Linked DNA regions of Homo sapiens: region 1 is linked to region 2. The links come from fine-mapping of genetic effects on gene expression. A gene starts in region 2. The other region holds a variant in brackets. All regions are shown on one strand. Distances are between the middles of the regions. Region 1 has its middle 180 kb from the start of MIR138-1. Region 2 holds the start of ZNF660 (zinc finger protein 660).

What was found.
Region 1: its variant is fine-mapped to the expression of ZNF660 in ovary (GTEx, PIP 0.99).

What each region holds. Positions count from the first base shown.
Region 1 is chr3:43,935,338-43,940,544 of GRCh38, reverse strand. No RefSeq gene overlaps it. Among named protein-coding and RNA genes, the nearest start is that of MIR138-1, 180 kb to the left of the region's middle. The variant A/T (reference allele first, on the strand shown) is at 2,274.
Region 2 is chr3:44,581,899-44,587,105 of GRCh38, reverse strand. ZNF660 (zinc finger protein 660) reads right to left here and starts at 2,142. Exons shown (of 3, transcript NM_173658.4): 1 at 2,099-2,142; 2 at 893-1,001. It overlaps ZNF660-ZNF197 (ZNF660-ZNF197 readthrough), which reads right to left and starts at 2,142. Exons shown (of 8, transcript NR_147692.2): 1 at 2,099-2,142; 2 at 893-1,001. The region is part of intron 2 of ZKSCAN7-AS1 (ZKSCAN7 ZNF cluster antisense RNA 1); the gene reads left to right. It also overlaps a transcript of ZKSCAN7 not described here.

The sequences.
Region 1 (5,207 bases), 650 kb after region 2:
CAGCCATCCCATTACTGGGTATGTACCCAAAGGATTATAAATCATGCTGCTATAAAGATACATGCACACGTATGTTTATTGTGGCACTATTCACAATAGCAAAGACTTGGAACCAACCCAAATGTCCATCAATGATAGACTGGATTAAGAAAATGTGGCACATATACACCATGGAATACTATGCAGCCATAAAAAATGATGAGTTCATGTCCTTTGTAGGGACATGGATGAAACTGGAAATCATCATTCTCAGTAAACTATCGCAAGGACAAAAAACCAAACACTGCATGTTCTCACTCATAGGTGGGAATTGAACAATGAGAACACATGGACACAGGAAAGGGAACATCACACTCTGGGGACTGTTGTGGGTTGGGGGGAGGGGGGAGGGATAGCATCAGGAGATATACCTAATGCTAAATGAAGAGTTAATGGGTGCAGCACACCAGCATGGCACATGTATACATATGTAACTAACCTGCACATTGTGCACATGTACCCTAAAACTTAAAGTATAAAAAAAAAAAAATTCCCACCTGCCAGCTCTGAAGAGAACAGTGGATCTCCCAGCACAACGCTCGAGCTCTGCTAAGGGACAAACTGCCTCCTCAAGTGGGTCTCTGACCCCCGTGCCTCCTGACTGAGAGATACCTCCCAGCAGGGGTCAACAGACACCTCATGGAGGAGAGCTCCAGCTGGCATCTGGTGGGTGCCCCTCTGGGATGAAGCATTCAGAGGAAGGAATAGGCAGCAATTTTTGCTGTTCTGCAGCCTCCACTGGTGATACCCAGGCAAACAGGGTCTGGAGTGGACCTCCAGCAAACTCCAGCAGACCTGCAGCAGAGGGTCCTGACTGTTAGAAGGAAAACTAACAAACTGAAAGGAATAACATCAACATCAACAAAAAGGATATCCACACAAAAACCCCATCCAAAGGACACCAATGTCAAAGACCAAAGGTAGGTAAATCCACGAAGATGAGGAAAAACCAGTGCAAAAAGGCTGAAAATTCCACAAACAAGAACGCTTCTTTTCCTCCAAAGGATCACAACTTCTCACCAGCAAAGGAACAAAACTGGACAGAGAATGAGTTTGATGAATTGACAGAAGTAGGCTTCAGAAGGTGTGTTAATAACAAACTCCTCCGAGCTAAAGGGGCATGTTCTAACCCAATGCAAGGAAGCTAAAAACCTTGAAAAAAGGTTAGAGAAATTGCTAACTAGAATGACCAGTTTAGAGAAGAACATAAATGACCTGATGGAGCTGAAAAAGACAGCATGAGAACTTTGTGAACCATATACAAGTATCAATAGCCAAATTGATCAAGCAGAAGAAAGAATACCAGAGATTGAAGATCAACTTAATGAAATAAAGCATGAAGACAAGATTAGAGAAAAAAGAATGAAAAGAAATGAACAAAGCCTCCAAGAAATATAGGACTATGTGAAAAGACCAACCTATGTTTGACTGTTGTACCTGAAAGTGGCAGGGAGAATGGAACCAAGTTGGAAAACACTCTTCAGGGTATTATCCAGGAGAAATTCCCCAACCTAGCAAGACAGGCCAACATTCAAATTCAGGAAATACAGAGAACACCACAAAGATACTCCTCGAGAAGAGCAGCCCCAAGAAACATAATTGTCATATTCACCAAGGTTGAAATGACAGAAAAATGTTAAGGGCAGCCAGAGAAAAAGGTTGAGTTACCCACAAAGGGAAGCCCATCAGACTAACAGTGGATCTGTCTGCAGAAACCCTATAAGCCAGAAGAGGATGGGGGCCAATATTCAACTTTCTTAAAGAAAACAATTTTCAACCCAGAATTTCATATCCAGCCAAACTAAGCTTCATAAGCAAAGGAGAAATAAAATCCTTTATAGACAAGCAAATGCTGAGAGATTTTGTCACAACCAGGCCTGCCTTACAGGAGCTCCTGAAGGAAGCACTAAACATGGAAAGGAACAACCAGTACCAGCCACTGCAAAAACATACCAAATTGTGAAGACCATCGACATTATGAAGAAACTGCATCAACTAATAGGCAAAATAACCAGCTAGCATCATAATGACAGGACCAAATTCACACATAATAATATTAACCTTAAATGTAAACGGGCTAAATGTCCCAATTAAAAGACACAGACTGGCAAATTGGATAAAGCATCAAGACCCATTGGTGTGCTGTATTCAGGATACCCGTCTCATATGCAAAGACACACATAGACTCAAAATAAAGGGATGGAGGAATATTTACCTTGCAAATGGAAAGAAAA[A/T]ATAAAAAAGCAGGGATTGCAATCTTAGTTTCTGATAAAACAGACTTTAAATCAACAAAAATCAAAAAAGACAAAGAAGGACATTACATAATGGTAAAGGGATCAATGCAACAAGAAGAACTAACCATCTTAAATATATATGCACCCAATACAGGAGCACCCAGATTCATAAAGCAAGTTCTTAGAGACCTACAAGGAGACTTAGACTCCCACACAATAATAGTGGGAGACTTTAACACCCCACTGTCAATGTTAGATGAACAAGACAGAAAATTAACAAGGATATCAAGGACTTGAACTCAGCTCTGGACCAAGCAGACCTAATAGACATCTACAGAACTCTCCACCCCAGATCAACGGAATACACATTCTTCTCAGCACCACGTCGCACTTATTCTAAAATTGCCCATGTAATTGGAAGTAAAACACTCCTCAGCAAATGGAAAAGAATGGAAATAATAAAAAACCGTCTCTCAGACCACAGTGCAATCAAATTAGAACTCAGGATTAAGAAACTCACTCAAAACAGCACAACTACATGGAAACTGAACAACCTGCTCCTGAATGACTACTGGGTAAATAATGAAATCATGGCATAAATAAATAAGTTCTTTGAAACCAATGAGAATAAAGACACAACATACCAGAATCTCTGGGACACAGCTAAAGCAGTGTTTAGAGGGAAATTTATAGTACTAAATGCCCACAGGAGAAAGTGGGAAAGATCTGAAATTGACACCCTAACATCACAATTAAAAGAGCTAGAGAAGCGAAAGCAAGCAAATTCAAAAGCTAGCAGAAGACAAGAAATAACTAAGATCAGAGCAGAACTGAAGGAGATAGAGACATGAAAAGCCCTTTAAAAAATCAAGGTATCCAGGAGCTGATTTTTTGAAAAGATTAGGTAGACTGCTAGCCAGATTAATAAAGAAGAAAAGAGAGCAGAATCAAATAGACACAATAAAAAATGATAAAAGGGATATCACCACTGATCCGAAAAAAGTACAAACTACCATCAAATAATACTATAAACACCTTTATGCAAATAAACTAGAAAATCTAGAATAAATGGATAAATTCCTGAACATATACACCCCCCCGTCCTGCCCACCAAGACTAAACCAGGAAGAAGAATCCCTGAATAGAACAGTAACAAGTTCTGAAATTGAGGCAGTAATTTATACCCCAATAATCAAAAAAAGCCCAGGACCAGACTAATTCACAGCCAAATTCTACCAGAGGTACAAAGAGGAGCTGGTACCTTTCCTTCTGAAACTATTCAAAACAACAGAAAAAGAGGGAATCCTCCCTAACTCATTTTATGAGGCCAGCATCATCCTGATACCAAAACCTGGCAGAGACACAAGAAAAAAATAAAATTTCAGGCCAATATCCCTGATGAACATCGATGCAAAAATCTTCAATAAAATACTGGCAAACCAAATCCAGCAGCACATCAAAAAGCTTATCCACCACGATTAAGTCGGCTTCATCCCTGGGATGCAGGGCTGGTTCAACATATGCAAATCAATAAATTTAATCCATCACATAAACAGAACCAATGACAAAAACCACATGATTATCTCAATAGATGCAGAAAAGACCTTTGACAAAATTCAATACCGCTTCATGCTGAAAACTCTCAATAAACTAGGTATTGATGGAACATATCTCAAAATAATAAGAGTTATTTATGACAAACCCAAAGTCAATATCATACTGAATGGCCAAAAGCTGGAAGCATTCCCTTTGAAAACTGGCACAAGACAAGGATGCCCTCTCTCACCACTCCTATTCAACATAGTATTGGAAGTTCTAGCCAGGGCAATCAGGCAAGAGAAAGAAATAAAGCGTATTCAAATAGGAAGAGAGGAAGTCAAATTGTCTCTGTTTGCAGATGACATGATTGTATATTTAGAAAATCCCATTGTCTCAGCCCCAAATCTCCACAAGCTGATAAGCAACTTCAGCAAAGTCTCAGGATACAAAATCAATGTGCAAAATTCACAAGCCTTCCTATACACCAGTAATAGACATACAGAGAGCCAAATCATTAGTGAACTCCCACTCACAATTGCTACAAAGAGAATAAAATACCTACGAATACAACTTACAAGCGATGTGAAGGACCTCCTCAAGGAGAACTACAAACCACTGCCCAAGGAAATAAGAGAGGACACAAACAAATGGAAAAACACTCCATGCTCATGGATAGGAAGAATCAATATTGTGAAAATGGCCATAATGCTCAAAGTAATTTATAGATTCAATGCCATCCCCATCAAGCTACCACTGACTTTCTTCACAGAATTAGAAAAAACTATAAATTTCATATGGAACCAAGAAAGAGCCTATATAGCCAAGACAATCCTAAGCAAAAAGAACAAAGCTGGAGGCATCATGCTACCTGACTTCAAACTATACGACAAGGCTACAGTAACCAAAATAGCATGGTACTGGTACCAAAACAGATATAAGACCAATGGAACAGAACAGAGGCCTCAGAAATAACGCCACACATCTACAAGCATCTGATCTTTGACAAACTTGACAAAAACAAGAAATGGGGAAAGGATTCCCTATTTCATAAATGGTGTTGGGAAAACTGGCTAGCCATATGCAGAAAACTGAAACTGGACCCTCTCCTTACACCTTATACAAAAATTAACTCAAGATGGATTAAAGAGTTAAATGTAAGACCTAAAACCATAACAACCCTAGAAGAAAACTTAGGCAGTACTATTCAGGACATAGGCTTGGGCAAAGACTTCATGGCTAAAACACCAAAAGCAATTGCAACAAAAGCCAAAATTGACATATGGGATCTAATTAAACTAAAGAGCTTCTGCACAGCAAAAGAAACTATCATCAGTGTGAACAGGCAACCTACAGAATGGGAGTAAATTTTTTGCAATCTATCCATCTGACCAAGGA
Region 2 (5,207 bases):
TAAGTGAAATGTAAACATTGCAAGAAAAAAAAAGAATTAGAAGAAAGGCCTAAGCCTCAAGGGAAAGGCTAACACCATGTGAAAAAGCTGATATATCTGACACATAAAAATTTCTGTATTCCAAAAAATGCCATAACAAATCTATAAAATAGAGTTTGCCTTATACTGGAATTGCTTGTGTGTATGTCTGTGTCCATCCTCAAATATATACATTAAGCTCTATGCCCTCAGAGAGCAGTTCCCATGAGATTTGCCTGTAGATACCACATGGTGTCTGACACAGAGAGGGCTCAGTCAGCATTGTTTGATTTGAAATGGTAAATTAAACAAGTTTAAGATTCTAACACCTGGAGTGCACATAGGGATGCTGAGAGCCAAATCCACACATCACTACTACCATCCCTCCTCTACATGTTTGTCCTTTTTGTGCTTCATATTATCTGGGAAACACCATAATGGTGTATTTGCATTCTTGGCAATTCTGTCTCAACAGAGTCATCCCAGGGACTAAATTCCCTAAGAGATTGACCTGGTCCCACTATTCAGAGACTCTCAGTATGTCAGAGCTGGAAGGAACCTCCCAGTCTATCCAGTCTTATATCCAAATGTACAGAAGGAAAACTTGGAACTTAGAGGAAAGCTGGGACTCAAATCCAAGTCCCATGACACCCAATTTTGAGTTCTACTACATCACCCTTATTCCCATCTGAAACAAAACTCTACTCCTCAAGGTCCAGAGGCCCCCTGCCCACTTCAGTGCTTTTCTCCTGTTTGATAAATACCACTGAGAGAAGCTCCCTTTCAACCCTGGTGCCCACAAGCAGGATTCCTGTGCCCAGACTAACTTCACAATCTAGGCCTCACCTGCCCAGGAGAGAATGGAATGACTCACCCATATTCCTGTGCACAGCAGCCTCAATCCAAAGGATCTGCACAGCACAGATCTTGCCTGATCTCCTCCTTGAGTTCAGTGAAGAAGTTCCTAAGAGGGTCTTGAGTCACTGTAAACAGATATAAATGACTGAGTTCTCTGAGCCCTGAATTCCAAGTGGACACTCAGGGCAGTGTCCCATCTTTGGGTAACTTCCCTTCCTATAGAACTGTGGGCAGTAAGAAGGATCATTTCCAGTGTAAAGATGAGGGAATGAAGCTCCCAGGGATTGAACGACTTGCCCAAGGTCCTATAGCTAGTGAGTGATTAAAAAGCCTTCTGTGTCTTCAGGAAATCCTAATTCCATCACACCACAGCCTCCCCTTTTCACCTGCTCCATTGATATCTAAAAGCTTCCATATTCTCATCTAACTGCAAAATACAATGCAGTGGAGAACTTCCTTGCAATCCAGCTTTCCACAGAAAGTCTGCACAAGGGGGATGAGAGGGAGAACTTTGCTGAGTCAAGTGTCTTTAGGAAGACAGAAAGAAACAAGTCTTTAAAAGAGCACTAGAAAAAGAATGTTCCTTTTTTCTGTTTACCCATTTCTTAGGATTACTAAGCCTCAAATATGTTTTGTGTTTCCCCCTCCAGATCCCCAGGCTCTGCTTCTAACCCTTGAAGTTTGTTTCATTTCTCCCCTACTAGAATTTAGTTCTGTCCTGTACACAACCATAACCCCAGGACCTAGCACACTACTGGGTTAGTGCTCAATAAATATTTGTTGAATGAATCAATGAATGAATGAGTAACCTTGGGCAAGACTCCGTCCTCTTCTCTGGGCCCCAGGTTCCTCACTGGTAACGGGAGGGATATTGGACTGGTGATTTGAGTCAAATACTCAGGGGCTGTGGAGTCCTGAGAGCCTAGGCGGGACTCGACCGCTACTACCCGGAAGGCCCACTGCCTAGGAGCGGGGACGACACAGTGCTGTCACCACGGCCAGCCTGGTCCAAGCGAGCAGCTACGAGGAGTCAGAGACTGGACCCAAGACAAAGGGGCAGCACTGAACGAGAGAAAGGGGAGGCCCACAACGACCCCTTGGCTGCCGCGCCCATCTCAGCAGCGGGCAGCCGCAGAGGAGCCCTGGCCTCCTGGCTTGCGTCTCCCACACGCTCCCAGAACCCGGCCCGACCCCCCACGCCAGACTGTAGAGCACCCCTCACCGAAAGCGCCAGACCCACATCTTGAACAAAGCGCAGAAGGAACTGCGTCAGCAACTCCCAGCTAACTCCCAGCCTGTCCCTCCGGCCCTTCTAGGCTTCGTGAGGTTTCCACATCTCTGTGCCCGCGGGCTGGAGTCCCCCCGCCCCTCAGAAGCCCCGCGCGGTCGGCCGACGCTCTGGCCCTGCCTCCCTTCCGGGCTTTGCCCTATCATTGGATGGAAGGGCTTGGCGACTTCAGCCAATGTGAGGAGGGCCCTGGAAGTGGTGGAAGCTGGGCAGGGGGCTTGGTTAGGGCGGAAAGAGACCGAGCATCTGGGTGGCCAGGCTGCCAGCCTCAGGCTGAGACTCCCTAAAGTTACACCCCCAGCTCCGGTTGCTGAGCAGAGAGGTCATCTTTCCTTCCACAGATCTGGGTCATTCAGCCTCAAAGCCAGGATCAGCTATGGTTTATTGGCAGCATATGAAAAGACGTTTTGGGTGCCTACTATGTCACTCACTGTTCCAGGCGCTGCGGATACAGTAGTGAAGAAAATGAACTCTCTGCCCCATTGAGTTTACATTCAAGTCAAGGAGACAATGATAAATAAATATGTAGAACGTAGCAGTAAGGGGAGAGAGGGAGTAAGGGGAGAGAGGGAGATAGTGGTGGGACTATTTTACAGATGACAGGGAGGGCAGAGACAGGAAGTGGGCAATTGAAGCATGTGGCTATCTGGGGAAAGAGTATTCCCATAGTGGGCCATTAGGAGCAAAATTCTTTAATCAGGAGTGGGGTGGAGAGGTGCACATTTAGGATCTTGTAGACTATGATAAGGGCTTTGGATTTGCTCTGCATAACAGCTGGAGGGCTTGGGGACAGAGGAACGACATGATCTAACTTTTTTTCCCTTACCACATATTCAAAGACTTGTTAGCTATGAGACATGAAAGAAGCCAAGAAGCCTGTTACTATAAATTCTGTGAATTCTTTGCTGTCTGTCCTTAGCCATTCTAACATAAACCTTGCATGAATTTTGCTCTTTGACTTATATTTTTAGTTTGCTTTGGCTGTCTTGTTGAGAACGGTCTGAAGGTGGGTAAGAGTAGAATCAGGGAGATTAAGAGGCCATTACAATATTCCAGATGAGGACTGATAGTGGCTTGGACAGGCTTAGAAGTGATGCAGGTAGTGAGAAATGGTTCTGCATATATTTTGAAGGCATGGCCTGCATGATTTGCTAATGAATTGAATGTTGGTTACTGATGACTCCATGGTTATTGATCTGAGCAACTAGCATGGGATGGTCTTTTAGAAATCGAGTAGCTTGAAAGGAACAGGTTTAGGGAGAGGGATTAATAGTTTTGTTTTGGATGTGTTAAAGATGCCAATTAAACATCCAAGATGAAATGCCAAACAGGCAGTTGGAATAGGAGTCTGGACTTCCGTGAAGAGATCACAGCTAAAGACATAAATTTGGAAGTTGTCAGGACAGGATGAGACAATCTAGGGAATGATTTATCTAAGAAGGAGTCTGAGAATCAAGCTTTTGAAGTACTTCGTCAATTGACAAATATTCAGTATTTAATATTGTTGAGTACTTAAAGTATACCAGGAGCTTTCTTCTCCATTGGCTCATGTAGGTGGCACAACTCCGCCACATTGTATAGAGATTGAAAAAGAGATTCAGACAAAAGTCCTCCACAAGTTCACACCCTCAGTTGATGTGGGACGTAGAACTCGGGACACTCTCCTGAAGAGCACAAGACTACTGCCACTACATCAAGAAACTTAAAAAGAATAGGCTGGGTGTGGTGGCTCACGCCTGTAATCCCACCACTTTGGGAGGCTGAGGCGGGTGGATCACCTGAGGTCAGGAGTTCGAAACCAGCCTGGCCAACATGGTGAAACCCCGTCTCTACTAAATATTACAAAAATTAGCTGGGCATGGTGGCAGGCGCCTGTAATCCCAGCTACTCAGGAGTCTGAGGCAGGAGAATCGCTTGAACTCGGGAGCTGGAGATTGAAGTGAGCCAAGATCACGCCATTGTACTCCAGCCTGGAAGACAAGAGTGAAACTCAGTCACACACACACACACACACACACACACACACACACACACGAATATTCATGTACATTAAGGGAGCTGTGATCTTTAACTTACTTAGTCTTCCCTTTCACCTACTCTTTCATTTGGGTGGGTGGGGCCATTCATTCTGATTCAAGCTGCTAACCCTACATCTGGTCCCAGGGAGGAATGATTACTCCTTAATATTCTAGTCCAGTAATTCTCAAATTTTAGAGAACGTAAGGGTCACTAGAATATATGTTAAAAATAGATTCCAGCCTGCCTGTATCCAGCTTCTATTGCCCTTATCCACAAGCATACTTTTTCCTACAAAAATCTATTCATTCAGTCAAGTATAATGTCACTGCTCAGAAATCAGGGTGTTTTTTTGTGTGTCATAATTGCCTAAATACTCAGCAATTTCAATCTTTATTATGACATCTATCTGCCAAAGAAATTCTAACTCATTTGGGTAAATGAAATCAACGTCTAGTTGGTCAGGTCTTTTTAAGTTTGTGGACTAGGCCATCTAAGGGGAAAAAACATTGTAATTTTAGTCAGTTGACAAGTCTTAACCAGGCATCATTTCAGGAATACCCACAGGCCAGAAAGGTGGGCCGTCATACATTGCTCTCCTATTGTGTTTTCATGTAAAGCACTCACATGCCTTAAAAGGGAGTCTGCATCTCACCCTACTTGGCATCCACCTGGGTAAAGTGACCCTGTGCATATATTAGTGGAGGACTGTTATGATTTGGTGAATAATAAATCTAAAATGTCCTATCCTGGATCAAGTACTAGCACCACTAGGTGCTTGTGGAGCCAGCTGTAATCGTTAACACCTTCCCTGTATCCAGCTGTGGCAAATTCTACTGGTCCCCATCAGGGCAGAGCATGACCTGATGTTAGGGATAGGGGATTTACTTTCAATTCTTTTTATAGTGCCACCATGTGCGTATTCACAATTGACAAATTCACAACCTGTCCCTAACCCCTAGAGGTTTTCAGGAATGCACGCTCTGTAGTACTCCAGAAAAAGGTCAACATCTTGACAGAACTGTCT